Linked DNA regions of Homo sapiens: all the other regions are linked to region 2. Evidence: fine-mapped expression QTL. A gene starts in region 2. Each other region holds a variant in brackets. All regions are shown on one strand. Distances are from middle to middle.

Evidence for each region. PIP is the estimated chance that this variant, and not a neighbour inherited with it, causes the effect.
Region 1: its variant is the best candidate, but not a certain one, in a credible set for the expression of SYTL1 in monocytes (Fairfax 2014, PIP 0.73).
Region 3: its variant is the best candidate, but not a certain one, in a credible set for the expression of SYTL1 in whole blood (INTERVAL, PIP 0.67).

The regions. Positions count from the first base shown.
Region 1 is chr1:27,280,434-27,290,767 of GRCh38, forward strand. WDTC1 (WD and tetratricopeptide repeats 1) reads left to right here. Exons shown (of 16, transcript NM_001276252.2): 4 at 1,806-1,852; 5 at 2,905-3,016; 6 at 7,241-7,428. Among named protein-coding and RNA genes, the nearest start is that of TMEM222, 37 kb to the right of the region's middle. RefSeq lists a silencer at 4,352-4,431 and enhancers at 6,491-7,133, 8,807-9,792. The variant GTT/G (reference allele first, on the strand shown) is at 5,563.
Region 2 is chr1:27,335,108-27,345,011 of GRCh38, forward strand. It overlaps SYTL1 (synaptotagmin like 1), which reads left to right and starts at 6,915. Exons shown (of 15, transcript NM_001193308.2): 1 at 6,915-7,043. TMEM222 (transmembrane protein 222) reads left to right here. Exons shown (of 6, transcript NM_032125.3): 6 at 272-1,293. The coding sequence ends at 359. RefSeq lists enhancers at 6,536-6,795, 7,326-7,375, 7,550-8,167, 8,166-8,255.
Region 3 is chr1:27,516,301-27,526,634 of GRCh38, forward strand. LOC105376892 (a long non-coding RNA gene) reads left to right here and starts at 6,187. Exons shown (of 2, transcript NR_188658.1): 1 at 6,187-6,246. RefSeq lists enhancers at 6,508-7,090, 9,002-9,640, 9,569-9,658. The variant A/T (reference allele first, on the strand shown) is at 5,000.

The DNA.
Region 1 (10,334 bases), 54 kb before region 2:
ACCTACATAACCTTAATACATGGTAATAAGTATGTGTATTGTGAAGCTTAAATAAATTGACAAAAGTGAAAGCTTAGCATCTACCCTGGCATTTAGTAAGTGTTCTGTTAATTTTGCTGGATTTTAATCTAAATCTTGCTTGTTCAGACTCATTCATGCTGTTTTTTAAGAAGTTAGAGAGAAGCACTTGGCTGTCTGCTTCCTGTCTTTCCTAGTTGGCATTTTTTGTGGAGGCTTCATTAAATATCTGTAACTTTCATGCTCTTTGACATTGACCCTTTAGGTTGAGCCTCATTACACAAGGGTTTAGGCCTGAAGTCAGCAGGTACGTTAAATGTGTATATGATGAATCTCACTGGGTTGTAGTTAAGAGAGGGTCCTTATGTGTAGCTACACAAACTGGATCACAGGCTTTGCCTGAAAGTCAGAAAATGTTCTCAAAGATCCTTTAAGCCTCTTCCTAAAGCCTGACATTCCTGTTTTTTTCTGGGTTTGTTTGGTATCTCTCTCCTTTTTCTTTTTCTTATTTTTATTTTATTTTATTTTATTTTTGAGACAGAGTCTCTCTCTCTTTTTTTTCAAATCCCCAAGATAAAGACTCTGACCTAATTTACCTTACTGCACCAGGCTCTACCTATTTGAATTAAGCTCTGGAAGATCCAAGGAGTTTTTTATACTCCTGTACCCCCAGCATCTGAACAGTACCTGGCATGCAGTAGGTGCTTGATGAATAATTTGCCGTGTGAGGCTGGGCGCGGTGGCTCACGCCTGTAATCCTAGCACTTTGGGAGGCCGAGGCGGGCGGATCATGAGGTCGAGACCATCCTGGCTAACACGGTGAAACCTCTGTCTCTACTAAAAATACAAAAAATTAGCCTGGCGTGTTGGCGGGCGCCTGTAGTCTCAGCCACTCAGGAGGCTGAGGCAGGAGAATGGCATGAACCCAGGAGGCGGAGGTTGCAGTGAGCTGAGATCATGCCACTGCACTCCAGCCTGACTCTGTCTCAAAAAAAAAAAAAAAAAAAATGCTGGGTGAATAAAAGATTAGCCTTCTAGTTAATTGGCTGTCCTTGGATTGAATGTTTCCTGGCAAATTTTCTGTGACTGAGAGGGTATCCCTTGAAGGTACTGTTTCAGACATATCTCTTTTTCTGTTTTTGTTTTGTTTTGTTTGAGACACGGTCTGGCTCTGTCGCCCAGGCTGGAGTGCAGTGGTGCGATCTCAGCTCACTCCAACCTCCACCTCCCAGGCTCAAGTCATCCTCCCAACCTCAGCCTCCCGAGTAGCTTGGACTACAGGCACATGCCACCACACCCAACTAATTTTTGTGTTTTTTGTAGAGATGGGGTTTCGCCGTGTTGCCCAGGTTGATTACAACTCCTGAGCTCAAGCAATCTGCCCAAAGCAGATTGGGCAGCCTCCCAAAGCACTAGGATTACAGGTGTGAGCCTCTGTGCCTGGCTGACATACTCCTTCTAATGGTAAAAGCAGAAATGTGTTTGGATCTCACTTTTACTGCTTTCTACTGTCTGAACTTCAGTTTACTTTTCTGCAAAACGGGATCAATGAAACTTGTCCTTTATGGCTCAGAAGTGCCCAGTATCAAGTGAGATCATGAATATGAAAGTACTTTATATATTGTAAGACGCTAGTCAGTTTAAGTCCACTTTGGCCACTCACATGCACTTGGAAAATATTGAAAATGGAAAGACTGGTTTACCTGTTCAGTTCCACTTCTTGGTGTTGAGTTCCCCAGGAGAACCCCTAACCAACTCTCTTCCTGTCTCTTCATTTGCTCCCCCAGGGTCACTCAGGATGTGTCAACTGTCTGGAGTGGAATGAGAAAGGAGAGTAAGTATGAGCTAGAGCACCTGAAGGGTGCTGGGGAAGGAAGTAAGGAGGGTGGAACAGCAAGGCTCCTCCTGAGAGGATCCAAGGAAAAGATTGGACCCAAATGAAAAGAGACTGCTGCTGTCTGCCGTTCTTCAGCTTAGCCCATAATTTTCAACACAATTAAACAATCTCAGATAGATGGAAAGTTGGATGACCATCCAAACCCTGTTTTGTTTTGTTTTGTTTTGTTTTAGAGACAGAGTCTCATTCTGTCACCCAGGCTGGAGTGCAATGGCGTGATCTTGGCTCACTGCAACCTCCGCCTTTCAGGTTCAAGCGGTTCTCCTTAATCAGCCTCCCAAGTAACTGGGACTACAGGCATGCGCCACCATGCCTGGCTAATTTTTTGTATTTTTAGTAGAGACGAGGTTTTGCCATGTTGCCCAGGCTGGTCTCAAACTCCTGAGCTCAGGCAATCCACCTGCCTCAGCCTCCCAAAGTGCTAGGATTACAGGCATGAACTACCGCGCCCGGCCCAAAACCCTGTTTTTTTAATAAGCCAATGTGTTTAAGAATGATAGAAATTTCTTGGCCGGGCGTAGTGGCTCACGCCTGTAATCCTAGCACTTTGGGAGGCCGAGGCGGGTGGATCACGAGGTCAGGAGATTGAGACCATCCTGCCTAACACAGTGAAACCCCGTCTCTACAAAAAAACAAAAAATTAGCCGGGTGTGGTGGCGGGCGCCTGTAGTCCCAGCTACTCAGGAGGCTGAGGCAGGAGAATGGCGTGAACCTGGGAGGCGGAGCTTGCAGTGAGCCGAGATCGCGCCACTGCACTTCCAGCCTGGGGGACAGAGCGAGACTCCATTTCAAAAAAAAAAAAAAGAATAATGGAAATTTCTCAGGACAAAATAGAAGAGAATCAGCTGTTTACAAGGCAACCTTAAATTCTGTGACATTTACTGTTCTTCAAATTCTGTAACCTAACTCCTTGTAAACTGAGAACATGGGATGGGGAAAGGGAGCCTAGGAATTTGAGGAGAGATCACAATCCCTCACTCTGCTTTCAGCTTGCTGGCCTCTGGTTCCGATGACCAGCACACGATTGTGTGGGACCCGCTGCACCACAAGAAGCTGCTCTCCATGCACACGGGACACACCGCAAATATCTTCTCTGTCAAGGTGAGCAGGACAAGCCACAGAGCAAGCACAAGCCACAGATCAAGCACAAGAGTGACTGGGCTGTGGCCACGCCATGTTGGTATGTGTGTGTCCCATATACCGTCTAGGGTCACAGACAACCTTATGATCTAAGTATCTGTTGGTGATTCCTGAAACCTCATTTCTCTTCCATGTTCTTCTTCCTCTTTTAGAGCTAAGCGGCCAATTCTAGATGAATTTATCTTTATGTGAATGGTAGTGGTGGGGGTATGGTTCTGAACGTGAACTTAGAGAGCAGGCATACCTGGGTTTGACTCCCTTATCTGCTTCTTGGGCATTGTGTGACCTGGGCAAATCACCTGACCTGTCTGAGCCTGTTTGCTCATCTGTAAAAAAGGAAGCAGCGAAGGAAAATCTCCCAGATTTGTAAACAAATTAATTTTTTTAAAAGGAAATAACAGTCTACAAGGTTGATGTGACAGTTCAATGAGATAATTGATAAAAATAAAGTCTGTGCCCAGTGCTTTTTATCTGTTCTACCCCTTCATAGGAAATGAATATTTTGATTTGTTGGAGGAGGGGAGTTGAGCGGAGGAGAGGTGAGAAGGGGACTTACAAGTGTCTTCAGACCTTTGAAGCTCTGTTGAAGCCCTGGAAATGACATGAGACATGTTTTTTTGTTGTGGAAAACAGACCTAGGACTAGTGGCTGTAAGTCCACAGAATTAAATGTGGGCCTGAGGAAAGAAAGAACTGTCTAATGCTTAGAGCTCTTTGAAAAATGTAGAATGGGCCCCTGGAGGAGATGAGTAAATGTCCTATCCCTGCACTTGTCCACTCGCCAGGTGCTTTATCTCCAAGATTTAAAGTTGGAAGAAATGGCCTGCAAGGAAGGGCCTTTCCAGCTCTGAGATTCTATAATGGATAGATGTGAGAATGAAGTTGTCCTTCGGAAACCCTCACTATTCTAAGAAATATTTTCGTAATTAATATCAAGAGGAATTACAAGATACCTGAACAAGATGATAGCTCCAAACCTACTTGTTTTCCTAAACCCTTTTTTCTTCTCAAGCTATGATTCTCGCCTTTAGAGACAGAACAATGATGATTTACCTCTTATATGACTAACGGAAACTGCTTTCTTCCCCTGCAAAGAGTTTAGGTCCAATTTTAGTCTGCACAGTCAGGCCTGGGGAAGGGGACCTAAGCCATTAGTTTAGCATCAGAGCACAAGACATTGATTTCTAACACCAGAATTTCATAATGGTCTTGATACTCCCTAACGGTAAGACCTTGGGAACGGCACTTACATGCAGACTGTCAGCCTCCTCTTCTATTTAAAAAAAAAAAAACAACCTGAAAAGGATTCTTCTTTCTTTAGGTAGTGGAAACACTGCAGATGTATATGTATTTAACTCATGCGCTCCCCCTGGTGGTGACTATGGTGTGTGATGCGTGTGGCAGCAGCCACAAGATCATGACAAGGGCTCCCCAGTTTATTTCTGCTGTGCATTGAGTGTATGCCGTCTCTAGACAGGATTAAAGACTACTGGTTGTCCCTAAAATAATTAAATCATGTCTATTTCATCTAGACCTTGGTCTTTTTTTTTTTTTTTTTTTTTTGAGGGTGAGTCTTACTCTGAATGTCGCCCAGGCTGGAGTGCAGTTGGCACAATCTTGGCTCACTGCAACCTCCGCCTCTGGGTTCAAGCGATTCTTGTGCCTCAGCCTCCTAAGTAGCTGGGATTACAGGTGTGCACCACCACACCTGGCAGATTTTTGTATTTTTAGTAGAGATAGGGTTTCACCATGTTGGCCAGGCCAGTTTCGAACTCCTGACCTCAGGTTATCCACCCACCTAAGCCTCCCAAAGTGTTGGGATTACAGGCATGAGCCACAGTGCCTGGCTAGACCTTGTTCTAATGGCCCTTAGAGAAGCCTATGTGGAAAGAGTGAATTGTTGTTCTTTGTGAACATTTAAAGTCAAGTGGGACATCAGCTGTTTCAGTGTAGGACATTGCCCCTCCCCCAACACTACCACTCAGCCTTGTTGTGGGTAGGGAGGAACTTTTCAATTTTAAAAAAAAGATATTTCAATTTTTTGAACTCACACGAGAATTCAACACCACTCCCAAATATTTTTTATCCTCAAAGTTATGTGATAGAACTACATACTTTCTTTCTTGTTTCTTTTCTTTTTTTTTTTTTGAGACAGAGTCTCGCTCTTGTTGCCCAGGCTGGAGTACAGTGGCAAGATCTCGGCTCACCGCTGCCTCAGCCTCCCGAGTAGCTGGGACTACAGGCATACACCACCACACCCGGCTAATTTTTTGTATTTTTAGTAGAGACAGGGTTTCTCCATGTTGGTAAGGCTGATCTTGAATTCCCGACCTCAGGTGATCCACCTGCCTCCGCCTCCCAAAGTGCTGGGATTACAGGTGCGAGCCACAGCGCCCAGCCCAGAACTGCATACTTTCTTTTTTCATTATTTGAAGCTATGGTTGCAGCTGTTTTTTTCTTATCAGATGTCATCTGGAGTATTTTGTTCTTGCCTTTATCAGGATGGTG[GTT/G]TTTTTTTTTTTTTTTTTTTTTGAGATGGAGTCTTGTTTGCTCTGTCACCCATGCTGGAGTGCAGTGATGCCATCTCAGCTCACTGCAACCTCCACCTCCCGGCTTCAAGTGATTCTCCTGCTTCAACCTTCCGAGCAGCTGGGATTACAGGTGCACACCACCACATCCGGCTAATTTTTTTTGTAGTAAAGACGGGGTTTCACCATGTTGGCCAGGGTGGTCTCAAACTCCTGACCTCAGGTAATCCGCCTACCTCGGCCCCCCAAAGTGTTGGGATTACAGGTGTGAGCCACGGCACCTGGCCGGTTTTTTTTGTTTTTTTTTTTAATAAATACTGCATAGAGATGTATCCTCTTGATGCTCAGCCCTTCCCTATTGTCCAACATTTGAGCTGTTTCCAATATTTGCTATTATAAGAGGCATCCAAGCATTTCTGACCAGGTCCCTTTTTTCTTTTTGGATTATTTCCTTTTTTTTTTTTTTTTTTTTGAGATGGAGTCTCGCTCTGTTGCCCAGGCTGGAGTGCAGTGGCGTGATCTCAGCTCACTGCAAGCTCTGCCTCCTGGGTTCACACCATCCTCCTGCCTCAGCCTCCCGAGTAGCTGGGACTACAGGCGCACGCCCGGCTAATTTTTTTATATTTTTAGTAGAGACGGGGTTTCACCGTGTTAGCCAGGATGGTCTGGATCTCCTGACCTTGTGATCTGCCCGCCTCAGCCTCCCAAAGTGCTGGGATTATAGGCATGAGCCACCACGCCTGGCCTGGATTATTTCTTGGAAGTGGAAGTTTTGAGTCAAAAACTAGAAATTGTTTTTAATCTTTGTTACTATTACCAGATTGTTTTTCAGAAGCAGTCAAACTAATTTAAAACACTCACTCCCAACAGGGCATTCTGGCTCATGCCTACAATCCCAGCACTTTGGGAGGCCAAGGCAGGTGGATCACCTGAGGTCAGGAGTTCGAGACCAGCCTGGCCAACATGGTGAAACCCTGTCTCTACTAAAAATACAAAAATTAGCTGGGCGTGGTGGTGCACACCTGTAATCCCAGCTACTCAGGAGGCTGACACAGGAGAATCGCTTGAACCCGGGAGGTGGAAGTTGCAGTGAGCCGAGATTGCACCACTGCACTCCAGCCTGGGTGACAGAGCGAGACGCTGTCTCAAAAAAAAAAAACAAAAAAAACCCACACACACCCATTCCCTTAAACACTCAAAGTCTTTTTCACTTCAGGACTAATTTATTACTTAATCTCTAGGTTACTAAGTAGTCATAATGAGGCAAGTAGGGCATGTGGGAGTCAGACAGACTTGGGCTTGAACACAATCTTGCTGTATATTACTGCTGAACCTCAAGGGTTTGTTTTGTTTTTTGTTGTTGTTGTTGTTTTTGAGACAGTCTCGCTCTGTTGCCCAGGCTGGAGTGCAGTGGCACAATCTCGGCTCACTGCAGCCTCTGGCTTCCTGCAGCCTCTGCCTCCTGGGTTCAAGGGATTTTCCTGCCTCAGCCTGCTGAGCAGCTGGGATTACAGGCATGAGCCACCGCGCCCAGCCTGCATGGGCTCATTCTCTTATCTGACATGGAGAGAGAAAAGGGTGCAGACATCCAGGCTAGCCTCCTTCCGTGGCCATTTCTACTCTTACCACCCACCCCTTCCTCCATTTCTCCTATATAGTTCCTGCCTCACGCTGGGGACCGCATCTTGATCACGGGGGCAGCCGACTCTAAGGTGCATGTGCACGACCTGACAGTAAAGGAGACCATCCACATGTTTGGAGACCACACAAACCGGGTGAAGCGCATCGCCACAGCGCCCATGTGGCCCAACACATTCTGGAGTGCTGCTGAGGATGGGCTTATCCGGTAAGAGTCTGGGGCATCTAGTGGAGCCTGTCGCTCCCCCATCCCATCATCCTATAGTGTTTCCTTCTACAGACCTAGCTCTTTCCCTCCAGCAGAGGTCCAACCTCCTTTGTCTGCCCAGGGCAGTTGTCTGTGTACAAACTCCACTGGGAACATTTGCTTACTCCGCCCTCACCTTCCTCCCTCTTTGCCCTCCTTTGTACTACCTCTAGGCCCACAAGCTTTTTCTCACCACCTCAGGTGTCCAGGGTCTCTACTGCCTCTGGGCATTCACGTTACTCTTTCCTCTACTTGAGATTCTCTGTCCCCAGCTCTTCCCATGTCGGACTCTTTCTTATCCTAAGGAGATCAGCTTCAGTTACCTCTTCAGAAGCACCTTCTCTGACCATCCTGTCTAAAGTAGACAGACGTTATGCTTGTTTTAACAATTATATCCTCTGTAACTCTAATTGCCACCTGTAGTTATTTTTATTAATTAATTAATTTTTATTTATTTATTTTTTTTTTTATTGATCATTCTTGGGTGTTTCTCGCAGAGGGGGATTTGGCAGGGTCATATGACAATAGTGGAGGGAAGGTCAGCAGATTAACAAGTGAACAAAGGTCTCTGGTTTTCCTAGGCAGAGGACCCTGCGGCCCTCTGCAGTGTTTGTGTCCCTGGGTACTTGAGATTAGGGAGTGGTGATGACTCTTAATGAGCATGCTGCCTTCAAGCATCTGTTTAACAAAGCACATCTTGCACCGCCCTTAATCCATTTAACCCTGAGTGGACACAGCACATGTTTCAGAGAGCACAGGGTTGGGGGTAAGGTCACAGATCAACAGGATCCCAAGGCAGAAGAATTTTTCTTAGTACAGAACAAAATGAAAAGTCTCCCATGTCTACTTCTTTCTACACAGACACGGCAACCATCCGATTTCTCAATCTTTTCCCCACCTTTCCCCCCTTTCTATTCCACAAAACCGCCATTGTCATCCTGGCCCGTTCTCAATGAGCTGTTGGGTACACCTCCCAGACGGGGTGGTGGCCAGGCAGAGGGGCTCCTCACTTCCCAGTAGGGGTGGCCGGGCAGAGGCACCCCTCACCTCCCGGACGGGGCGGCTGGCCGGGCGGGGGGCTGACCCCCCCCCCACCTCCCTCCCGGACGGGGCGGCTGGCTGGGCGGGGGGCTGACCCCCCCACCTCCCTCCCGGACGGGGCGGCTGGCCGGGCAGGGGGCTGACCCCCCCACCTCCCTCCTGGACGGGGCGGCTGGCTGGGCAGAGGGGCTCCTCACTTCCCAGTAGGGGCGGCCGGGCAGAGGCGCCCCTCACCTCCCGGACGGGGCGGCTGGCCGGGCAGAGGGGCTCCTCACTTCCCAGACGGGGTGGTTGCCGGGCGGAGAGGCTCCTCACTTCTCAGACGGGGCGGCTGCCGGGCAGAGGGGCTCCTCAGTTCTCAGACGGGGTGGTTGCCAGGCAGAGGGTCTCCTCACTTCTCAGACGGGGCGGCTGGGCAGAGACGCTCTTCACCTCCCAGACGGGGTCGCGGCCGGGCAGAGGCGCTCCTCACATCTCAGACGATGGGCGGCCGGGCAGAGACGCTCCTCACTTCCTAGATGGGATGGCGGCCGGGCAGAGACGCTCCTCACTTTCCAGACTGGGCAGCCAGGCAGAGGGGCTCCTCACATCCCAGACGATGGGCGGCCAGGCAGAGACGCTCCTCACTTCCCAGACGGGATGGCGGCCAGGCAGAGGCTGCAATCTCGGCACTTTGGGAGGCCAAGGCAGGCGGCTGGGAGGTGGAGGTTGTAGCAAGCCGAGATCACGCCACTGCACTCCAGCCTGGGCACCATTGAGCACTGAGTGAACGAGACTCCGTCTGCAATCCCGGCACCTCGGGAGGCCGAGGCTGGCGGATCACTCGCGGTTAGGAGCTGGAGACCGGCCCGGCCAACACAGCGAAACCCCGTCTCCACCAAAAAAATACGAAAACCAGTCAGGCGTGGCGGCACGCGCCTGCAATCGCAGGCACTCGGCAGGCTGAGGCAGGAGAATCAGGCAGGGAGATTGCAGTGAGCCGAGATGGCAGCAGTACAGTCCAGCTTCGGCTCGGCATCAGAGAGAGACCGTGGAAAGAGAGGGAGAGGGAGACCGTGGAAAGAGAGGGAGAGGGAGACCGTGGGGAGAGGGAGAGGGAGACCGTGGGGAGGGGGAGGGGGAGAGGGAGAGGGAGCTAATTAATTTATTTTCTGAGACAGGGTCTCACTCCATTCTATTGCCGAGGTTGGAGTGCAGTGGCGTGATCATGGCTCACTGCAGCCTTGACTTCCTGGGCTCAGGCGATTCTCCCACCTCAGCCTCCTGAATACCTGGGACTACAGACACGCTCCACCATGCTTGGCTAATTTTTCTATTTTTTTTGTAGAGATGGGGTTTCTCTGTGTTGCCCAGGCAGGTCTCAAACTCCTGGGCTCAAGTGATCCTCCCACCTCGGCCTCCCACAGTGCTATGATTGCTGGTGTGAGCTACCACACCTGGCCTTATTTTATTTTTACTTATTGGTTTACTTTTTTGTCTGTATCCTCACTAAATAGTAAAAGTAAACTCTCTTAGAGCAACTCCATGTCTGTCTTGTTCTTGGTTGTATCCCTAGAGCCCAGCACAGCGCCTGGCACATAGAGCCGCTTGATACATTTCTCTTGAACAGTTGGTCAGTGGCTATATACCTGGGAGGGGGCAAGCCACCCGGAAATGGTAAAATGGACTGTCCCCTTTTCCAGTGCCCTGCATTGTTACACATTTGCCTCTACTTCCCTTCATTCTAAAATGGTGTCGTTGCCCTTCTTTAACTCCTTTCTTCAGCTGTGACCTTAGAACTTCTTTCTTATCTCCCCAGCCTGCTTTAATCTGTCTCCCTTGAGTTC
Region 2 (9,904 bases):
GGGAGCATGTTTCCTGTTCCCAACCAGCGAGGTGTCAGTAAATCACCAGGAGCGCGGAGCAGCCCCTGCCCGGGACCATAGCTGGTGATCCCCCATAGTGGGCAACCATGCCCAGCCTGCTTCCTTGATTGGCCAAGTTTGGGGTGAGGGGGTGGTTGGGTTTTCCTTAGGGATGGCAGCCCTATTGGGGTCTGTGGGTGCTCAGGGCTGCGGGCCGCATGCCTGCTCACCAGGCCCTGCCCACCTATGCTCGCTCCTTTCTCTCTGTCAGCGTTGGGGCCTTCGTGAAGACCTGGCTGCCCTTCATCCTTCTCCTGGGCATCATCCTCACCGTCAGCCTGGTCTTTAACCTCCGGTGATGGCTGCTCGGTGGCCCCACACCCACCAGGGTCCCGAGGAAACAGCCGCCATCCCTTTTGGTTCCAGATTTTTTTCTCCTCACCCCAAAAGGCAGGGTTGGGCCTGCTGTTGTGGACCGGGGGTCGGGGCTGGCAGGATGGAAGGACTGAGGACCAGCATGAAGTGGGGGTTTGTTGTCTCCCTGCCTCTCAGAAGCACCCTGTCCCCTCCTCCCCAGGCCTGTGACTCCGGCCCTGGAAGCCCCTTTGTTCTTCTGTTGAAAGGCTTTGGCTTCCCGCTGTAGAGCTGCTCCCGCCACCACCTGCTGGGGTCCTGCCTCAGCCCAGTGCCCAGTATGGGGAGAGGAGGACATTTGGGCTCACCTGTCAAGGTGGCCCTGGGACCAGAGCTGGTCCCAGCATGGGGTGCACCGGGTACACTTAACGTGTCTCTATAAGCCAAGTTGCTTCAGGACCTTCACCACTGGCCTCTAGAATGGTCCAGAGGGGCTGGCTGGGTCCCTTTGTCAGACTCCTGCCGGCAGCTGCCCTGGGGGACATGTGTGCCCATCTGGCATCCTCCAGCCCGTGCAGTCCGCTCTTCACTGTTCCACGGCCTCCCAGTGCCTCCCAGCATTGGACCCATCTCCCCCTGCAGTTTGAGGCCAGAGAGGTGAGTGGACCTGACAAGTGCCAGAGTAACCGTGTAGACAGAGCAGTGTAGACAGCACTCAGCCCCAGCCCCAGGTGTGGACCTCATGCTGGTGATGGCTCCCCTGGGTGGCCTGCCAGCACAGCCAGTGCCATCAGGGAGCTGAAGGGGCTGTCCCCCACCTAACTCCAGCTCCCCCTTCACGTTGTCACCAAGGCCCTGTGCCGCCCGCCTCGCCCCCCTGCTCTGTGGATTCCTTTGGGAAGGGCTCCCTGGGCAGGACAATAAAGAGTTTTGACTCCAGTTGGTGCCCTGTCATTGTTTTCTCCCTCTCTGGGGCCCCCTTGCCCCTTAGCTCATAGCGTCTTGGTATTCTTGGGACCCTATTACCCTTGACAAGGGTCTAGTTGCCAGCACCATGGTTGAGTCTGCGTCCAGTGCCTGGGGCCATCAGCATCCCTCAGGTATATCCCGCCCCTGAAGTCTGGGGATTCCCTGCCATTCTCCATTCCCCATTCCAAAGCTTTCCTCTTGAGGCAGGTGGGCATTGAAACCCCTTCCATCGTCCCTGTTGGGAAGGACTTGTAGGCTTGGGGTTAGGGCTGAGTAGAGCCTCCACTGCTGTCCCCACCACCCGCCGGGGTACAGAGTTGGGGATGAGCCAAGAGCACTGCCAGCCTCTGGTCACTGTATCCATCCAGCCTTCGCTTGCCTCCGATCCTTTGCTCTCCACCATCCCTCTCATGGCGGCCCTGCCTAACCAAGGCCCAGCTTAAAAGCCGCTTCCTCCCTGAAGCCTTTCCCAACCCTGTCCATGCATCACTTCAGTTGAACTAGCCAAGGATTTGGTCTTGAACGTGGCCTTGAGGACATGCTCTAGCAGCTGGCCATGGGGTCCCTGGTCAGGCATCTGCCAGCTCACCCCAGACCCTGCAGTGCTGTGGTCTGCAAGCCTGGGACTTCTCCAGGGCAAGGCAGAGGTGACCTCTCCCCACTTCAGAGCAGTTCCATTTACTTTTCTTTTTTTTCTTTCTTTCTTATTTATTTATTTTTTGGAGACAGAATCACTCCGTTGCCCAAGCTGGAGTGCAATGGCACGATCTCAGCTCACTATAACGCCTGCCTCCTGAGTTCAAGTAATTCTCGTGCCTCGGCCTCCCAAATAGCTGGGATTACAGGTGCCCGCCACCACGCTGGGCTAATATTTGTATTTTTAGGAGAGACGGGGTTTTACCATGTTGGCCAGGCTGATCTCGAACTCCTCAGGTGACCCACCCGCCTCAGCCTCCCAAAGTGCTGGGATTACAGGCATAAGCCATTACGCCTGGCCCCAGCAATTCCATTTTCAAAAACCTGTTTTGCATATTGGGTCCATCCGAGAGTTGGTTGAGGGGGGACAAATTCAATACTGAAGACAGGCCGGTTGCGGTGGCTCACGCCTGTAATCCCAGCACTTTGGGAGGCTGAGGCAGGCGGATCACGAGGTCAGGAGAGCGAGACCATCCTGGCTAACACGGTGAAACCCCGTCTCTAATAAAAATACAAGCACTTAGCCGGGCATGGTGGCGTGCACCTGTAGTCCCAGCTACTTGGGAGGCTGAGGCAGGAGAGTGGCATGAACCCGGGAGGCGGAGCTTGCAGTGAGCCGAGATCGCGCCACTGCACTCCAGCCTGGGTGACAGAGCAAGCCTCCGTCTCAAAAATAAAAATTAAAAAATAAACCAAAGACAGCCACAGTAGAATAGATAGAAAAAAGGCTTAAGGCCTGCGTTAGCCTAGCAGAATTTAAAATTTGCCTGGGGGAAACAGGACATAAAATTGTGCCATAGAAGTCACCAACAGGGTCAGCCACAGTGTCCAGCACTTTGGGAGGCCAAGGCTGGAGGAGGGAGGGAGCCCAAGAGTTTGAGACCAGCCTCGGCAACAAAGTGAGACCCCATCTCTACAAAAAATTAAAAAATAAAATTAGCTGGGCATGATGGTGCGTACCTGCAGCCCCAGCTACTACTCAAGAGACTGAAATGGGAGGATAGCTTGAGCTCAGGAGGTCAAGGGTGACAGAGCAAGACCCCGTCTCTCCCTCTCTCTCTCTCTTTTTTTTTGTTTTGTTTTTTTTTTTTTTTTTGAGATGGAGTCTTGCTCTTGTCACCCAGGCTGGAATGCAATGGCATGATCTCAGCTCACTGCAACCTCCGCCTCCCGGATTCAAGCGATTCTCCTGCCTCAGCCTCCCGAGTAGCTGGGATTACAGGCGCCTGCCACCATGCCCGGCTAATTTTTGTATTTTCAGTAGAGACAAGGTTTCGTCATGTTGGCCAGGCTGGTCTCAAACTCCTGACCTCATGATCCGCCTGCCTCGGCCTCCCAAAGTGCTGGGATTGCAGGTGTGAGTCACCATGCCCGGCCTAAGGCCCCGTCTCTTAAAAAAAAAAAAAAAAAGTCACCAACAGTTAGCGAGTGCTTACTCTGTGCTAGGCCTTGTAATAAAATACCATCTTAGCCTCACAACAGCCCTGCAACAAGGTAAGTGCCATCATCCCATTTTACAGATGAAGAAGTAAGCAGAGAAGTAGTGATTTGCTCCGGGTCACAGAGGTAGGAAGAGTGGAACTATGGTTCAAACCCAGCAGCTGGGCTCCAGAGCCCCCACTCAGAGCCACCCTGTGCGATGGCCTCACTGGAGCACAGGAGTGGAAATGAGAGGTGCTGTGATGCGAAAGGAGAATGGCCGCGGAGGTGAAAAACAAGCTCTCCTGACAGCAGCAGGCCTGTGAGATGGCTATTGTCCCCACTTCATAAAGGAAGAGAGTGAGGCTTACAGGGATTGTCATTGATCCCAGGCCACAGGGAACCATGCGGCAGAGCCAGATTTTAACCCAGATCTGCTGGCCTCTAGGACCCTGCCTCTTAATGTCCCTCTTAACAGAGGGATGTTGCCTAGAGACTGGCTGCAGCGCAGGGGCACTGAACTCTGGAGGAGGCTGAGCTAGTCCTGGAGCTGGGGAAAAGTATTCCCACAGGGAGCACAGAAGGCCCAGGGGTGTTGAAGGACAGGAAATAGCCCACAGCTAAGGCTCTACGGGTATAGGTGACGAAGGGGAGAAAGCCAGAGTAAGGGCAGCAATCCTGAGGGTCAGGCTGAGGGCCAGGCTGTCCTGGGAAGTGGTGAGACTTCCATCTCAGGACGTGTCTAAAGGGGACTGGACTGGTTTAGAAATGTATGAATGGGCCCGAGGGATGGCCTGGCTGTCTGCTGGCACCTTCCAAACCAGAGGATGACAAAGAAAAGTACGTTTGAAAGTTGTGCAACATAGGGCCAGAGTGGCCTTGTGTGGCCGCAAGGAGGCAGGAGAAGAGGAGGCTTCCAGAAGAGGCTGAGCGGGGACTGAGACCTGGGCAGGGGGAGGACAGCAGAGACACACAGATGGGAGGGCACCTGGAGTGAAGTGTGGACAGCATCTGGAGGTGGCAGGAAGCAGCAGGAGGCCAGGGGCCAGGATGATGGGGGCTGGTTACAGAGGTGGAAACTTGGAAATAGGTTTCAAGTGGGGAAGAGGCCAGAGGAATGCAGGTTGAGACACAGCAGGAGAGATGGCTGGAAGTATCAGCGTCAGGGAGTCACAGCTATAGGAAGGACAGGAGAGCAGAGAAAGGAAGGGAAATTTAGAAACCCGAAGACCAGATAATGAAGTTTCATGCCTTCCAGGAGGAAGAGCTGCTAAGGAGGTGAGAGGAGGGCAGAGAAACATCCTTGGGGGCGCCAGGACCAGGATGGCAGGAAGGGGTGTGGATGTTCTTGGCCACTCTCCTTCCATTTTGAGGGCCTTAATGAAGGAGGCAGCATCACAGTAATGGTCCCACAGCAGCTGCTCCATGGGTATTGCATGTGTGGGTGCATAAATGCATTAATCAAGAGTACTGGGGTCTGGGCAAGGTGGCTCACGCCTGTAGTCCTAGCACTTTGGGAGGCTGAGGCAGGCAGATCACATGAGACCAGGAGTTCGAGCCCAGCCTGTCCAACATGGTGAAACCCCATCTCTACTCAAAATACAAAAATTAGCCAGGCGTGGTGGCGGGCGCCTGTAGTGCCAGCTACTCGGGAGGCTGAGGCATGAGAATCACTTGAACCCAGGAGGCGGAGGCTGCAGTGAGCCAAGCCAGCCTGGGCGACAGAGCAAGACTCCATCTAAAAAAAAGAAAAAAAAAAGTCTGCAAGGATCTCACTGAATTTTAGTGAAAACCCTCTAAGGAGAGATTACCCCCATTTAACAGATGAGAAAAATAAGATTAATTTGCAAAAAATAAGTAGGGAAGCCTCCACTGTGGTTCTGAGGTGGAGGAGGGTCCTCTGTCTCTCAGTGGTGGTGGGAGTCGGTTCTGATTACAGGAAGGAAGAGTGGGTGTTTAGTTTTCTTTTCTTTTCTTTTCTTTTTTTTTTTGTGACGGAGTCTCGCTCTGTCGCCCAGGCTGGAGTGCAGTGGTGCGATCTCGGCTCACTGCAAGCTCCACCTCCCAGGTTCATGCCATTCTCCTGCCTCAGCTACTCGGGAAATAGCTGGGACTACAGGCAGCCGCCACCACGCCCAGCTAATTTTTTTTGTATTTTTAGTAGAGATGGGTTTTCACCGTGTTAGCCAGGATGGTCTTGATCTCCTGACCTCGTGATCCACCCGTCTCGGCCTCCCAAAGTGCTGGGATTACAGGTGTAAGCTACCACGCCCAGCCTTGTTTGCTTTTCTGAGACGGAGTCTCGCTGTGTTGCCCAGGCTGGAGTGCAGTGGTGCGATCTCGGCTCACTGCAACCTCCGCCTCCTGGGTTCAAGCGATTCTCCTGCCTCGGCCTCCCGAGTAACTGGGACTGCAAGCACCTGCCACCATGCCCGGTTAATTTTTGTATTTTGAGTAGAGACGGGGTTTCACTATATTAGCCAGACTGGTCTCAAACTCCTGTCCTAGAGTGATCCGCCCACCTCGACCTCTTAAAGTACTGGGATTACAGGCATGAGTCACTGTGCCCAGACTGGTTTTGTTTAGAATCCACCCCTTGTCCTGCCTCTCCCAGGGGTCTATGAGGAGCCCACTAATCTTTAATCCATGGCCCTAGGTTCAGGGGAGGGGGTTGGGCCAGGGCAGGCCATGGGAAGTGAAGTGGACTTGGGGGGAGTCAGAAAGCTTTGGTGTGGCCTCTTGTGCCCAAGACAACCCAGGAGGTTCATGGTCCTGAAGCCAATGTAATCTAGGGCCCAAACCTTCTAATCTCAGGGTGGGCAGAATCTAGGTGTAGAATGGGGTGAGTTCAGGGGGGCTCCACATAGACAGAGGGTGTGGGACCCTCACCTTGGCACTAGAAGAGTTCAGGCCTCCTCAAACAGATGGGGCTCAGGACAGCAGAGGGGACAGAGAGGGCTGCTCTGCCAGCATGTCCCAGAAGTGCATGTGGATATAGAGGGCAGCAGCTGCTGAGATGGCCGTGGGCATTAGGCTATGCTGGAGTGGGGACACCTCACCCCGACTATGCCAGCTCGCACCGGGCACTTTCACTTCCCTTAGTATAGGCTCCTTGCACTCTGCTACCCACAGTTTGCATCAGAAGAAATGGAAGAGACCTGCTTAAGGTCACATCACACACCCACTGGCAGAGCAGGGACTCTGCACAGGGTGGTCTAACTGCAAAGTCTGCCATCCTGCCATTCCCCTTGGGGCTGGAAAAGAAAGGTTTCTAACTTGCTTTCAAAGCGAGTTCCTATCAGCCCCGTTGTGGGCAAGGTGGGGCTGCTACCCGTTCTAGAGGGCCTGCTCAGTGGAGCTGGGGCCAAGCTGGGCCTCTCCAGTCGGCTGCGGGGGCGCACCCCCGGGCGCTGGGAGTCCAGGCCCGGTTTTGCATCAGGCCCTGCCGAGGTGTTTCCTCCTCCTCCGTGTGGGGCAGCTGCTGGCTGGGCTGCCTGTTGAGTCAGCCTTCTTCCCTCACGGCTCTTCTCCCGGTCCCTGAAACTCGGCTGCCAGGGGAGCTGGAGCCACCTGCGAAGGTGTCCTCCCATACTGGACCCCTACAGGTAACACGTGTCGGTGCCAGGGTCCCCTGCCAGGGTCCAGAGACGCAGGCACTGCCACCTGGTATCCTGAGCACCCTCCAGCACCTTGGGGTTGGGGGAGGTGGGCACATGTCTGGAACTGGAACAGCTGGACAGATGGACAGACCCTCCTCTTGACCAATGGGTCTGTCCCACCGTGTCAAAACAGCAGAGAAGACCAAACTCCTACCTAACTCTGGTAGGAGATTCTGCCTCTGGTTGGTAGGAGAGGGGACTTCAGGGAGGGGGCACTGCTGAGGACGCTGGGCTGATGCCCATGGCCCAGCTCAGGCAGGCCTGAAGGACAGAAATAGGCTCAGTTCTGCCGAACGTCCCCCCGGCCTCCATCCACACTCAGACACACACACCTGGTGGCCCCCAAGGCACCAGGGGACACCCCACAGCACACAGCCCAGTCACACATACAGCACAGGAGGAAATGCACAATGCATACTGTACACACCCCACACGGCGCTGTCACCTAGAAAGTCACTGAACACACCACACAGACAATATAGTCACCATGCAGCATCACACTGCAACAGGACACAAAGACACACAGCAACTACACAGCTCACAGACTCACGCAACGCAGACATGCCCACCAGACTCGGACCCACACAGCCACACAACAGGGCACAGAGAGGGACGTGGGCTCACACCCCAATCCACAGGGGAGGCCGAACGTGGGCTCACACCCCAATCCACAGGGGAGGCCGAACGTGGGCTCACACGTTGGCCACAGAAGTCCAGGGAAACTGCTGTTGTGGAGCACACAGGTATCCACAGAGTGAATGCACACCGTGCAGCCGTGCTGAGGCCTTCTGCTCCTGAGGGTGTCAAGAGGGATCGCTGGGGCTCGGCCACTGACTCAGCTGGGAGGGGACAGAGCATAGCAGGCGGCGGACACAAGCCAGGACCTGCCCGCCAAGCTGCCTCCGCCGGTCTCAGCCCCACCTGGAGCCGTGGCAATGGAAGGGGCGGGGAAGAGAGGAGAGGCCGCCCAGTGGGCTCAGGACACAGCCCTGACCAAGTCATGGGCCCCTTGCCACGTCTACATGCCCCTCAGCGCTGGGCAAATGCTTTCTTTCCGGAGTCACTGTGGTACCTGAGCATGGGCTGCTGCGCTAGCCTAGGCCTCCACCGCCGGGACCCCAGCCTGGTCTGGGGAGAACTGTGTGGCCAGAACAGAGGGGCCCTGTGGCTCCAGGCAACAGGGCAGGGCTGGCGGCGGGGGCATCCCTGGGTTGGAGGCCTCCGTGGGAGTGGGTGCGGCAGTTACCTCAGGAGAGGAAGTTGGGGGTGTGGGCTGAGGAGGAGGTTGCCTCAGACAGGAAGGCCAAGTGGGCCAGGGCAGGGTGGAGGTGGTGGCAGGAGGGGACCCAGGCTGTGAGGTTCCTGGTGCGGGGGAGTGAGCAGATGTGTGTGTGTGTACGTGTGTGTGTGTGTGTATCTGTCTGTCTAGGTGGGTGGTTGTATGTGTGCATTCCCATGTGTGTGCAGGCATATTTCTGCATTTAATTAATCAAACTTTTACCAACCATCTGTTGTGTGCAAAGTAATGGCTTTGAGGGTGACTCCCTCTCCCTGCCTCCAAGGAGCTCACAACCCAGTTAGCCGGGCAATGTATGTGTGCCAAAGTCTGTATGATTTTTATGTACATCTTTATCGAGGGACATATTTGTCCCCAGACTTGTTCTTGTCTAGGTGAACCCATCCGGGTGGGCCTATCCCCATTGGTGTGCATATGCTGTGTGCAGGTTTTTTTGTTAGTTTTTGTTTTGAGACGGAGTCTCACTCTTGCCCAGGCTGGAGTGCAGTGGCGCCATCTCAGCTCACTGCAACCTCCTTCTCTTGGGTTCAAGTGATTCTCCTGCCTCGCTTCCCAAGTAGCTGGAATTACAGGCATGTACCACCATGCCCAGCTAATTGTTCTGTTCTTTTCATTTTTTTTGGAGGAGTTTCACTCTTTTTGCCCAGGCTGGAGTGCAATGGTGTGATCTCGGTTTACCATAACCTCTGCCTCCCAGTTTCAAGCAATTCTCCCACCTCAGCCTCCCGAGTAGCTGGGATTAAAGGCATGCACCACCATGCCCGGCTAATTTTGTATTTTTAGTAGAGACGGGGTTTCTCCGTGTTGGTCAGGCTGGTCTCAAACTCCTGACCTCAGGTGATCTGCCCGCCTTGGCATCCCAAAGTGCTGGGATTACAGGGGTGAGCCACTGTATCTGGCCATAATTTTTGTATTTTTAGTAGAGAAGGGGGTTTCACCATGTTGGCCAGGCTGGTCTTGAACTCCTGACCTCAGGTGATCGGCCCACCTTGGCCTCCCAAAGTGTTGGGATTACAGGCGTGAGCCACCGCGCCTGGCCACTGTGTGCAGATTTAAGAACATGTGTAGGGCCGGGCGTGGTGGCTCACGCCTGTACTCCCAGCACTTTGGGAGGCTGAGGCTGGCAGATCATGAGGTCAGGAGTTCGAGGCCAGCCTGGCCAACATGGTCAAACCCCGTCTCTACTAAAAATACAAAAATTAGCTGGGCGTGATGGTGCGTGCCTATAATCCCAGCTACTCAGGAGGCTGAGGCAGGAGGTTTGAACCCGTCAGGCAGTGGTTGCAGTGAGATGAGATCGTGCCACTGTACTCCAGCCTGGGCAACAAAGCAAGACTCCTCAAAAAAAAAAAAAAAAAAAAAAAAAAGAATGTGTGTGCATGTCTCTCGTGGGCATGGGTCCGGGTCTGTGTCTGCAGAGGGCCCTTTCTGGGGGAACAGCTGTGCATGCGCCTGTCTTTATGCAGGTGTCTGTGTGCATGTGCGACCATATCTATGCCTACATGGACCC
Region 3 (10,334 bases), 180 kb after region 2:
TCTAAGGGGAGAACTGGGACTCAAAGCTGAATCTGTCTGACTCCAACGGGGCTGCTAGCCAAGGGATGGGAATCCCAAAGCCACCAGCAGATCCTTTTTGGGGCTGTGCCAGAGCTAGGTGCTGGAGTGGGTATGGTATCTGTCCCAGGATAATGACCAGACCCACACAGGATACGGAGGCTCAATTTGCCCTAAGTAACCTTTAAGCCCATCTCAACCTCCGGCAGCATTCTAGCTAAAGTTATTTATTCATTCTACACACATTTGCACACCGTGACTTGTGTGTGGAGCCATGTGCTGGGACCTGGAGACCCTGGATGAGTTAGTCTAGGCCTCTGTCCTCCAAGTGCTGCTAGTCTGGTAGGGGAGGCAAATACATTGCTAGAACACCTTACTGTAGAGCAGTGTGGAATAAGGATTAAGCATATAAATGGTGGCAACAAATTGCCTGGGTTCAAATCCCAGCTCTATCACTGATTATGTTTGTGAAATGAGCTAGTTACTTAACCTTTCTGAGTCTCAGTTTCACATGAGCAAAATGGGAGTGATGACACTTTCTAATAATATAACCATGAAGGTTAAATATGATCACGAACATGGAATGCTTATGTAAAGCCTAGCACATAGAAAGAAGCATTCAGTGAGTATTAGCTATCTGGAATTAAATGTAATGGGGCATAGGCTGGGCACAGTGGCTCACGCCTATAATTCCAGCACTTTGGGAGGCCAAGGCGGGCGGATTACCTGAGGTCAGGAGTTCGAGCCCAGCCTGGGCAACATGACGAAACCTCGTCTCTACTAAAAATGCAAAAATTAGCCAGGCATGGCGGAGTGCACCTGTAATCCCAGCTACTCAGGAGGCCGAGGCAGGAGAATTGCTTGAACCTGGGAGGCAGTGGTTGCAGTGAGCCGAGATCCCACCACTGTACTCCAGCCTGGGCAACAGAGCAAGACTCTGTTTCAAAAAATAAATAAATAAAAATGAATTGTAATGGGGCATAGAAGAGAAACTCATTTTTGTTGGGGAGGTGGGGGTCCAGAGAGGCTTCTTAGAGAAAAGGAACATCTGTGTTGGGCTCTGAAGGATGAAGAGTTCACCCGGAAAAGTGGCAGAGGGCATTCCAGGAGGAATGTATTTTGTGGACAAAGGCCCAGGGATATGGAAGGATATGACCTGTTTGGGTGTGGCTGAACACAGAGTTGGCTGAGAGGAGTGGTAGGAAATGAGGTTCGAAAGGCAGTTTTGAGGGCCTCCAGTGCCTTGCTATTGAGGGCAGACTTTAAAGGACTGGGGAAACAGAGCAGGAGTTTAAGGGCTGGGAAGGGACAGGATTATACCTATTTTATTTTTATTATTTATTTATTTAGAGATGGAGTCTTGCCCTGTTGCCCAGGCTGGAGTGCAGTGGTGCAGTCTGCTCACTGCAACCTCCTCCTCCCAGCTTCAAGCGATTCTCCTGCCTCAGCCTCCCAAGTAGCTGGGATTATAGGCATGCACTACCACGCCCACCTAATTTTTTTGTATCTTTAGTAGAGACGGGGTTTTGCCGTGTGGGGCAGGCTGGGTCTCGATCTCCTGACCTCGTGATCTACCCTCCACGGCCTCTCAAAGTGTTGGGATTACAGGCGTGAGCCACGGTGCCTGGCCTTATTGCGCCTATTTTAGAAAGGTGATTCTAGCCGCAGTGTGGAGCGTGAGCTGTACGAGGAGAGCCTGGCTGTCGGGGAGCAGATCTGAGCACGCTCCTCACCAGCCCTAGCTCAGGCTCGGACCTCTCTGACTTCCTGCCTTCCCACGTGCTCTTGCCTCTGCTTAGAGTATCTTTCCCTTGACTTTGCCTGGCTAACTCCTTGCCCACCTTCAGGTCTCAGTTTAGCCAGCACTTCCACCCGGAAGCTCTACTAGACACCCCTCCCAGTCCAGATTAGATGCTCCTACTTACTCCTCCTCTGTGCTTGCAGACCTGCCCACCTGCCTGCCTCGTCGACTGGACTCTGGCCAAGGGCAGGGACTGTGTGGCACTGCTCACTGCTGTATCCACAAGGCCCTAAGGCATAATGCCTGGAGCCTCAATCCATGATCGGTAGGGAACGAATGAATGGCTAAGCCTGTTGGGGCAGGTGTGATAGTTTGAGTGAAAGTGACAGGGTCTGCGGTGGCAGCGAGGAGAGAAGAGACACGATAGAATTGACGGGACCCAGGAATCATGAGAGGAGAACACAGGGAGAGAAGAAGGAGTTGGTGATGACTCAGAGGTGTTTTTTTTTTCACCTGGGTAAGCCCTGTGCCTCTAACCAAGATAGGAGCCATGGAGGAGGGGGTTGGAGGGAGGGAGGGAGGAGTAGGCCAGGGCAGAGGGGCAGGGCGGAGCCTTACCTTGGTAGGAGACTGGGGCCCTGGCCCAGGCCGTTCCTTGGAGTATTCTTCCCTTCTGGGATGCTGTGCACACTGATGGATCCTCAGCAATGTCTGTGACTGTCCAAATGCTGCCACCTTGACCACTCTAACTCGGCTGCCTCCCCTACAAATTATTCTCTACCAATGCACTCTCTCCACTTCCTCCCAACTCTCATGATTGTAATCGTGTATCCGTTGACTTGTATTTTATTCTCAGTGTGTCTTCCTCACTAGATTGGAAGTTCCATGAAGGCAGGGATCTCGCTGGTTTTATTGACCATGTATACCTGGCAGGCTCCCTGGCACATAGTAGGTGCTCAAAAAATATTTGTTGAATGAATGAGTGATGAATGAATGAATGAATTCTTTGAATGCCATGATAAAGAATTTGACTCTTAGCCTCCAGGAGACGGGGATCCATGGAAAGTTCTAAAGGAAGGCAGTGTCAGGATGCAGCTCGTATTAGAAAGCTCACCCTGGTCGCTGTGTGGAAGATGGATTGGGGAGGGAACGCGGGAGACTAGAGGAGGGGGAATTGAGGAGCCACTGGGGGAGACAAAGACATAGCACTTGGGGCTGGGCCTGGGAGCCCCCCTGCCTGTGAGGGCCCTGAGCCCCCTCCCAGTCCTTCCCCATCCCCCTGCCAGGCCTGTTGTCTCTGAGCCCAGCGGCAGGCGGGCGGTGGGAAGAGCAGGGCTGGCAAAGCTGACACTCACTAATCACGGCCCTCACCCCGGAGCCGCACTAACTGTCTGGTCTCCATGGAGACACGGCAACCTCCGGCCACTTGTTAATGGCAGCTCAACAAGGCTGCAGCGACAGGGACGGGCCTGACCAGCGTGCCCAGCTCCACACTACCTGTCCCAGCCTGGCCCTCTGCAGAAGACCTCAGGGGCACCAGACCTGGGGGACAGGACCGGAGGTCTGGTGGCTGGACGTCTCCCCAACCCCTCCGTGGCCCCGCCTCCCCTGGCACTGCCAAGCAGCGAGAGGGCAGAGGCAGCCTCTGCCCAGGCTGACTCCTCTGCAGGGCTGCTGGGAAGCTGAGCTCATGCAGGTCACCCAGGCAAGGCCAAAGGGCTGGAGGGGGATGGTGAGGAGTGGAGCGGGGACCTGCCCACAGCCCACACACTAGCAGAGTGGAGGAGGGCGTGCTTTGCCTGCCCTGACAACCCTCTGCTCTGCTAGCCTGAGGCAGGGGCCCAGTTGGGAACCATCTGTCCAGAACCTCTTCCCGGTGCACTGTCACTACATCTGAAATGCCACCGTTAGCAACGCACTCCTTCGGGAGGCAGCATGGCATAGCACAAAAAACACTGGTTTTGCCGTCAAGCAGGCTTGGGTGCAAGGCCTGACTCTGTTTCTCTACCTCTAAGCATTGATTTCCCCATCTGTAAAATGGGGGTAATCATTGCACATACAGGCTAACTCTTCCTCTTCCTGGAAACCTGAGCTCATTACCTGTGATGCCTCCCCCAGAATCTTCTTCACCCCCACAAACCAGCAGGGCCTCCTCCACAGTCCCCGGGCTCATCCCACAGCATGCTGCACCTGCCTGTGACTGTCCCACATTTGTCCTTCCCACAGACTGAGCCCTGTGGGGTTGGGCAGAGTGAGCCTCAGGAGAGGGTGGCGAAAGAAACAAAGGAAGGGCATGGGGGCCTCCCTCGGTCTTCTGCCTTTGCACCCTCCTTCAGTGCAGGTTGAAGACTTTCTTTCCTTCTCTCCTTCAGACCTTTGTTCCTCCATCTGTGTGTCTATCCATCCGGCCTGCAAACTCTCTCCAAGCCCTTCCCTTTTGCGGGACCTCAGAGAGGATGCAGATCCCACCCCAAACTAAAGGTGAGGCAGAGACCCAATTCCAGGGCTCTGGACACCTGAGGCACACCCATGGCTGGCTGGGGACCTTGGCACAGCTGCCTCCTCCCTCGGTCACTCCTTAGGCAACACTCCAAGCTGAAAAGGCCCTTGGAGATCATCTCCTCCTTTCCACGACAGCCAGCCAGATGAAGAAACTGAGGCCTGGAGAGCCCAAGATCCCATAGCAGTTCTGTTTTTGAGCTGACAATGTACCAATTATGCGGGCCTGCTGGGGAGGCGGCTTTTGGCTCTCCCGGCCCTGCTGACAGCTGTGTTCCCAGTGGCAGCTGGAATGCTGGTGGGAGGCCTGTCTGGCCTTTGCACCCTGACTCCCCAGGGCAGAGCCAGGTGGCTCTAGTGGGGCCCAGGGCTGGGAGGTGGTGTGGGCAGACAACCCTGAAGGGTGAGTTGGGGCATGGGATGGCTGGAAGAGAAGGGAGGCAGTACTGATTTTGGAGACTAAAGCAGAAGCCCTGAGGTCTTGTTCCAGCTCTGTCACTCTCTTGCTGGGTAACCTTGGGTGGATTGTTTGACCTCTCTGAACCTTAGTTTTCTTATTTATAAAATGGTGCTAATTTTGTAGATTGAAAACCTTTTATCAATAGTTGTAGCCATACAGAGGTGAAGAATTTTTATTGTTGGGCTGAAAGGCTAAGATTCCAGAGGGGAAGGGACTAGCCCGAGGCCACAGAGCACTGAATTGGATGCAAGGATTTGGACCTGGAGGAGTGTCCAGTCCAT[A/T]CTATCCACTTGCTGAAGGGGCAAATAGAGCCAGAGAAGGGGAGCAAGTTCCCCAAGGTCACTCCGTGAGTCTGGGGCCAGTGTGGGCCCAGAGCCAGGCTGTGCACGAGGTCCCCTGCCCAGCTGCCTCGCTTGCTCATCCAGCCCCCTTGGTTTTGTCTCCCCCAGTGAGTGGGCGCAGAACGGGCCCAGCTTCCTTCCTGCCGCCCTGCCTGCCGTCTGCCACGTTGGCATCCACCCTCAGCCTTCTCGCCCCTGCTGCTGCTGCTGCTGATGCGGCATCAGCCGAGACCAACCCGCCGAGAGTTTGCCCAGAGCAGTCAGGGCTGCCGGAGCCGGGGCTGGGCTGGCTGGCTGACTCTGCCAGACAGGAGGGAGCGAGCCAGCCGGTGGAGGGAGGGAACAAGGGCTGAGCCAGCCCCCAGCCTTCCCAGCCCTTCCCCACCCTCGCCGGCCAAGGGAAGGAGGCAGGAAGCTGGGGTTGGGGGCCAGGGGACTGCAGTGTCTGAGAATGAGGTTCCGATAGCTGGGTCTGTCTGTGGGAGCATGCACACATATGTGTGTGCATGGAAGAGCACGTTGGGGTGGTTTGTGAGTCTGTGTTTGCCTCAATGTGCACAGGTGATGATGCTATGTGTGTGGGTTTGTGCCGACATCGGGGGCCACTGTGTGTTTGTGTAAGCACAAGGGAAAGCTGTATGCCCTGAGTTTGAACGCAGGCCTGTGTACAGAGACGTGCGAGATCTAGCAGTGTGTGCACATGGTAGCAGATGGGCACCACGTCAGTGCCAATAAATCTTTGTATGCACAAAAGAGTCGGTACATGTGCCTGAGTTTGTGTATGTCACATCTGGGTGTGTTGGGAGCCCCTGTGATTTTATGGTGTACAAGAGGATAACAGCATAACTGTGGGTTTGAGCTTGTCTGTGTATGTGCAAGGGACAGTGTGTGTGCAGAAGGGAACTCTGCAGGTGGCTGGGATTTTGTGCATGTCTTGTGCCCAGGAAGGCACAGTACTGGTGGTGTGGGCTAGTCCAAATGTCCAGAGGATGGGTATGGGCGCCTCTGTGCCCAACAGACTTTGTCTGTGTGGTTGTTGAGAGTGACTCAGGGGAACACTGTGTGACTGTATATGCTTGGCTGTGTGTACAGGGAACAGGCAGCACAGGCATTGTGTTTCTGTGGTTGCATTTACACAGGGCGGTGGCGGCGGCGGTGGTGGTGATGGTGACGGTGCTGTGCTACAGGTTTGCACTTGTTTCTCTATGTGGCAAGGCCCTGCGTGTGACTGCGTTTGTGCGTGTCTGTGAGCACGGTGCGCTGGAAACTGCGTGCTTGGGTCTGTGGCAGGCTGAATGGAGGAGGGCGGAGGGAGTCCATGGCTATGTTTGTACTTGTCTGTGAGCCCGGGGTCAGATGCGCTCCATGTGCTACCTCCTGTGTGCACAGGTGGCCGCTGTGTCCAACCGTGTCTTTGTGTGTTTCGGGTTGCCTGAATGTGCACAGGCGGAGGACATGGAGGGGGGGATTTGAGTGCGTGCCTGTGCAGGCCCCTTTAACGTGGCAAGTCTAAGAAATGTCGGCCTTCTTGGCAGCGAATCTGGGCTTGGTTCCACTGGGGGCGTCTGCAGAGAGGGGCTCTTAGAAGGGACGTGCTTGAGCGAGAGAGACAGGAAGGGAAGGGGGGGCCAGCCCCAGCTCGGGGTTTCCAGGAGGGAAAGCCAGACATTGGAACTTGTCAACGCTACCTCCTTCCCTGCCCCCACCTTCCACTGCTGCCTCCCCTCCTGGCGCCTGAAGGCTGCTGGCAGACGGACAGACAGACAGACAGTGCACACATAGACTGGCTCATAGGCACAGAGCCCAAACCTGAGCCCCTAAATGCACAAGCCTGGACACTGAGGTCCAGAGAGGGCAAAGGAAGTAGCTGAGTCTCGGAGGAGCACATGTGTTTATGCATGTTGGGGGCAGGGGGTGCTGTTGGCCTCTGGTGCTTCAACCCAGACTGGAGCCCAGGCCTAGGGCGGGGAAGAGGCTGTGGAGAGCCTCTGGGGAGGGGCTTTTATGGCTCTAACCAGGCCCTCAAGGCCCCCAGCTCCTCTCCCTGTTTATACAACTGCTGCAGTGTCTTTGAGAGTCCTGTTGCCTCAAAAAAACACCTACCGCAACTCCCTGTTTGTACAGAGGCAGAAAAGACCCAGAGAGGAGCAGCAGCTGATCCAGGGTCACACAGCAGAACCAGGACTGGAATCCAGGGCTCCTTCTCCTAGCTGTGCATGTTGGCCCATGGGCCACTTAGTCTTATCTTTCCCTTGGTCCATTTATCTTTTCTTCCTCCCAGGTCTTCGGGATATGACAACGACCTCTTTTTTGTGTTGCTTTTGTTGCCCAAGTGATATGTCTGTCTGCCTGTTAGTCCATCTGTTTGTCACAGGGCTTCAATACCCTCTGGCAGAATACGGAAGAGAAGAGGGCTTGGTTTTTGGCCAAGGGCTATTGGAGAGATAGGGGTGGGATGGGGAGACAGAGAAACAGAACGAAAGGAATTTGAGACGAGAGGAAGGAGGAGAGAAGAGCAAGGGGAGGGCACTGGCGGCAGAGCTGAGAAGCCCAGGCTGCCCTTTACCTCCACCTCCAGCCTGGGCACAGGGGCGAGCTCTGAGCTCAGAGACTCTGAGTCCTGCCTCTTGGGGCCTTGGGGAGAGGACCCCAGGGCTCCTGTAGGGTCTGGGCCCAACCCCCAAACCCTGGGGGCAGCTGGGTTGGAGTCCTGGGGTCAGTATTCGGGGTGCAGGTGTGGGGTGCAGTGACCGAACTGCCCTCATGGGAAAAGGAGGGAGGGGATTGCAGGTACCTAGGGGGCATGAACCTGGGCATGCGTTGACTTAGTGTGTGTGGTCTCTTTGCAGCAGGGTTGTTGAGAGTGTGCGTGAGGTTGCGAGTACGCTAGGACTCTGTGTGGACACCTATGAACATACATGACCCAGTGGCAGACAAGCTGGGATTTCAGTGGGGAGGGGAAGGACTGCAGGAATGTGTGTCTATGACCGGCAGGGAGTGGTTGTCTATGTGTGGAAGGATTTGTGTGAACCTGCCTTACATGTTCTTGGGGAGGCTGTATCCTGTGTATGTAGGCAGGTGAACTGTATAGCTCTGTACAATTGTGTGTGGTGTGTGTGTGTGTGTGTGTGTGTGTGTGTGTGTCTGGATGAATATGTACCATGTGTTTGAATTGCTTAAGTATTTACATGTTAAATGTGTAACTGCATATAAGTGTGGATGTGTATACATGTTTGTAATTGTCTTGAGGTATATGTGTGGAGTTACCTGTATGAGTCTTGCCTGTAGGTTGTGTGTGCAGTTGTGTGTATTTGTGGAGCAGTGAATATTAGGAAGCTGTTCACATGTGCGGTTGTGTATTTTGGGGGATTAGGTTATATGTGTCGTTCTTTTTGGATGGAGTTTCACTCTTGTCACCCAGGCTGGAGTGTAGTGTCAGGATCCCGGCTCACTGCAACCTCTGCCTCCTGAGTTCAAGCAATTCTCGTGTCTCAGCCTCCCGAGTAGCTGGGATCACAGGTGTGTGCCACCACGCCTGGCTAATTTTTGTATTTTTAGTAGAGACGGGGTTTTGCCATGTTGCCCAGGCTGGTCTTGAACTCCTGGCCTCAAGTGATCTGTCCACCTCGACCTCCCAAAGGGCTGCGATCACAGGTGCGAGCCACCGTGCCTGGCCTATATTTGTGGTTCTTAAGGCTATACTTTATTTTTTATTTTTTGTTTATTGTCAAACTTCCCCTGTCAGAATGTAAACTCTATTAGGACTGAAATTTTTATCTATTTTGCTAACTATTTTGCTAATCTATTCCTAGTGTCCAGAATAGGGCCCAACACTTAGTAGGCACTGTATACATATTTCTCCAATGAATGATGAATGAAAGTGTGCATGCTTGGCAGGGTGTGGGAAGTGTGTTAGGTGTATGAATCGTGCGTGTGTGTCTGGGTGTGTGAATGGATAAATTTTTTGTGTCTTGAGTGTGTGAGGTTTCTAGCATAAGTGGCCTATGAACCAAGTACGTGCACAGGTGCATGTGTGTCTAGGCGTGTGACTGTGTACCTGAAGCTGGGCCACGTCTGTGAGCATTGCACACAACTGTGTGCATGCACAGTTGTGTGTGCTTGTACATGGGGGTGGGAAGGCGCTGTCGGCTTCTCCCAGCCTTCAGCACTCACTCAGCTTCACCCCAGGTCGCCTGCTGCGAAATGTCAGTGGCAGAGAAGCTAAAAATATCTGCTCTCCTCCTTCTGCTCACTGCTTGGGCTGATGGGACTGTGGGGCCCCAGCCGGCCCCTTGGGCCCTGCGGGGAGGAGGAACTGCTGGATGAGGGGGCGGGGCACAGGGGAAGGAAGGGAGGCCCTCCTTCGTACACACCCTTCCCCCTTTCCTCTTGGGCTCCAAAGCCAGGCTTCAGGCTCACCTCTTTCAGGAAGCCCTCAAGAACCCCCCAGGAGCTGTGTGTGTCTGTGTGTCTGTCTACCTGGCAAGGAGATATGGCCCCCATCAGACTGGAGCTCCACAGAGCAGGTCTGTGCCTCTTCTGCCCATCCAGGGACTCCAGGGGACAGAGCTCTGTCTCCTTCAGGCCAGGGGCTCCCAGGGAAAAGGCTGGTGCTGTCTCCTCCCTAAGCCTGAGGGTTACGGATGCAGCCCAGGCCAGACAGGGCTTCACTGGGCTCTGGTTCTGGGGCCACTAGGGCCCTCTGACCCCAGGGCAGATCTGCTGTGATGATGAGCTTGTGGGTAGGGAGGAGTCTCAGCTCTGCCCACACCACACCCTAGGCAGGCACGTGTTTGTGCTATGGGTACTTGTGTGGGTGCAGGTGGGACATGTCAGGGCCCGTGGTCCTCTGGGGACCTGTGCCTCTCCACATGTCGGGCTCCTGCCTGCATCAGTGGTGTCAGCGACTGCCTGCCTTGGGCACTGTGGTCAATCGGTACAAGTTGAGTGTATTGTATGTTTCTCTGTGTTCTTTTTTTCTTTGGAGGGGGGGACGGAGTCTCGCTCTGACACCTCCCGAGTAGCTGGGACTACAGGCGTGTGCCACCACACCCGGCTAATTTTTTGTATTTTTAGTAGCAAGAGGGTTTCATCATGTTAGCCAGGATGGTCTCGATCTCCTGACCTCAGGTGATCTGCCCGCCTCGGCCTCCCAAAGTGCTGGGATTACAGGCGTGAGCCACCACACCCGACCTTCTCTGTGTTCTTGTGTGTGCACATGGATGACTGTGTATGTGGGTTTCTGCCTTTCATTGTGCAGGCCTGCAGATACTAG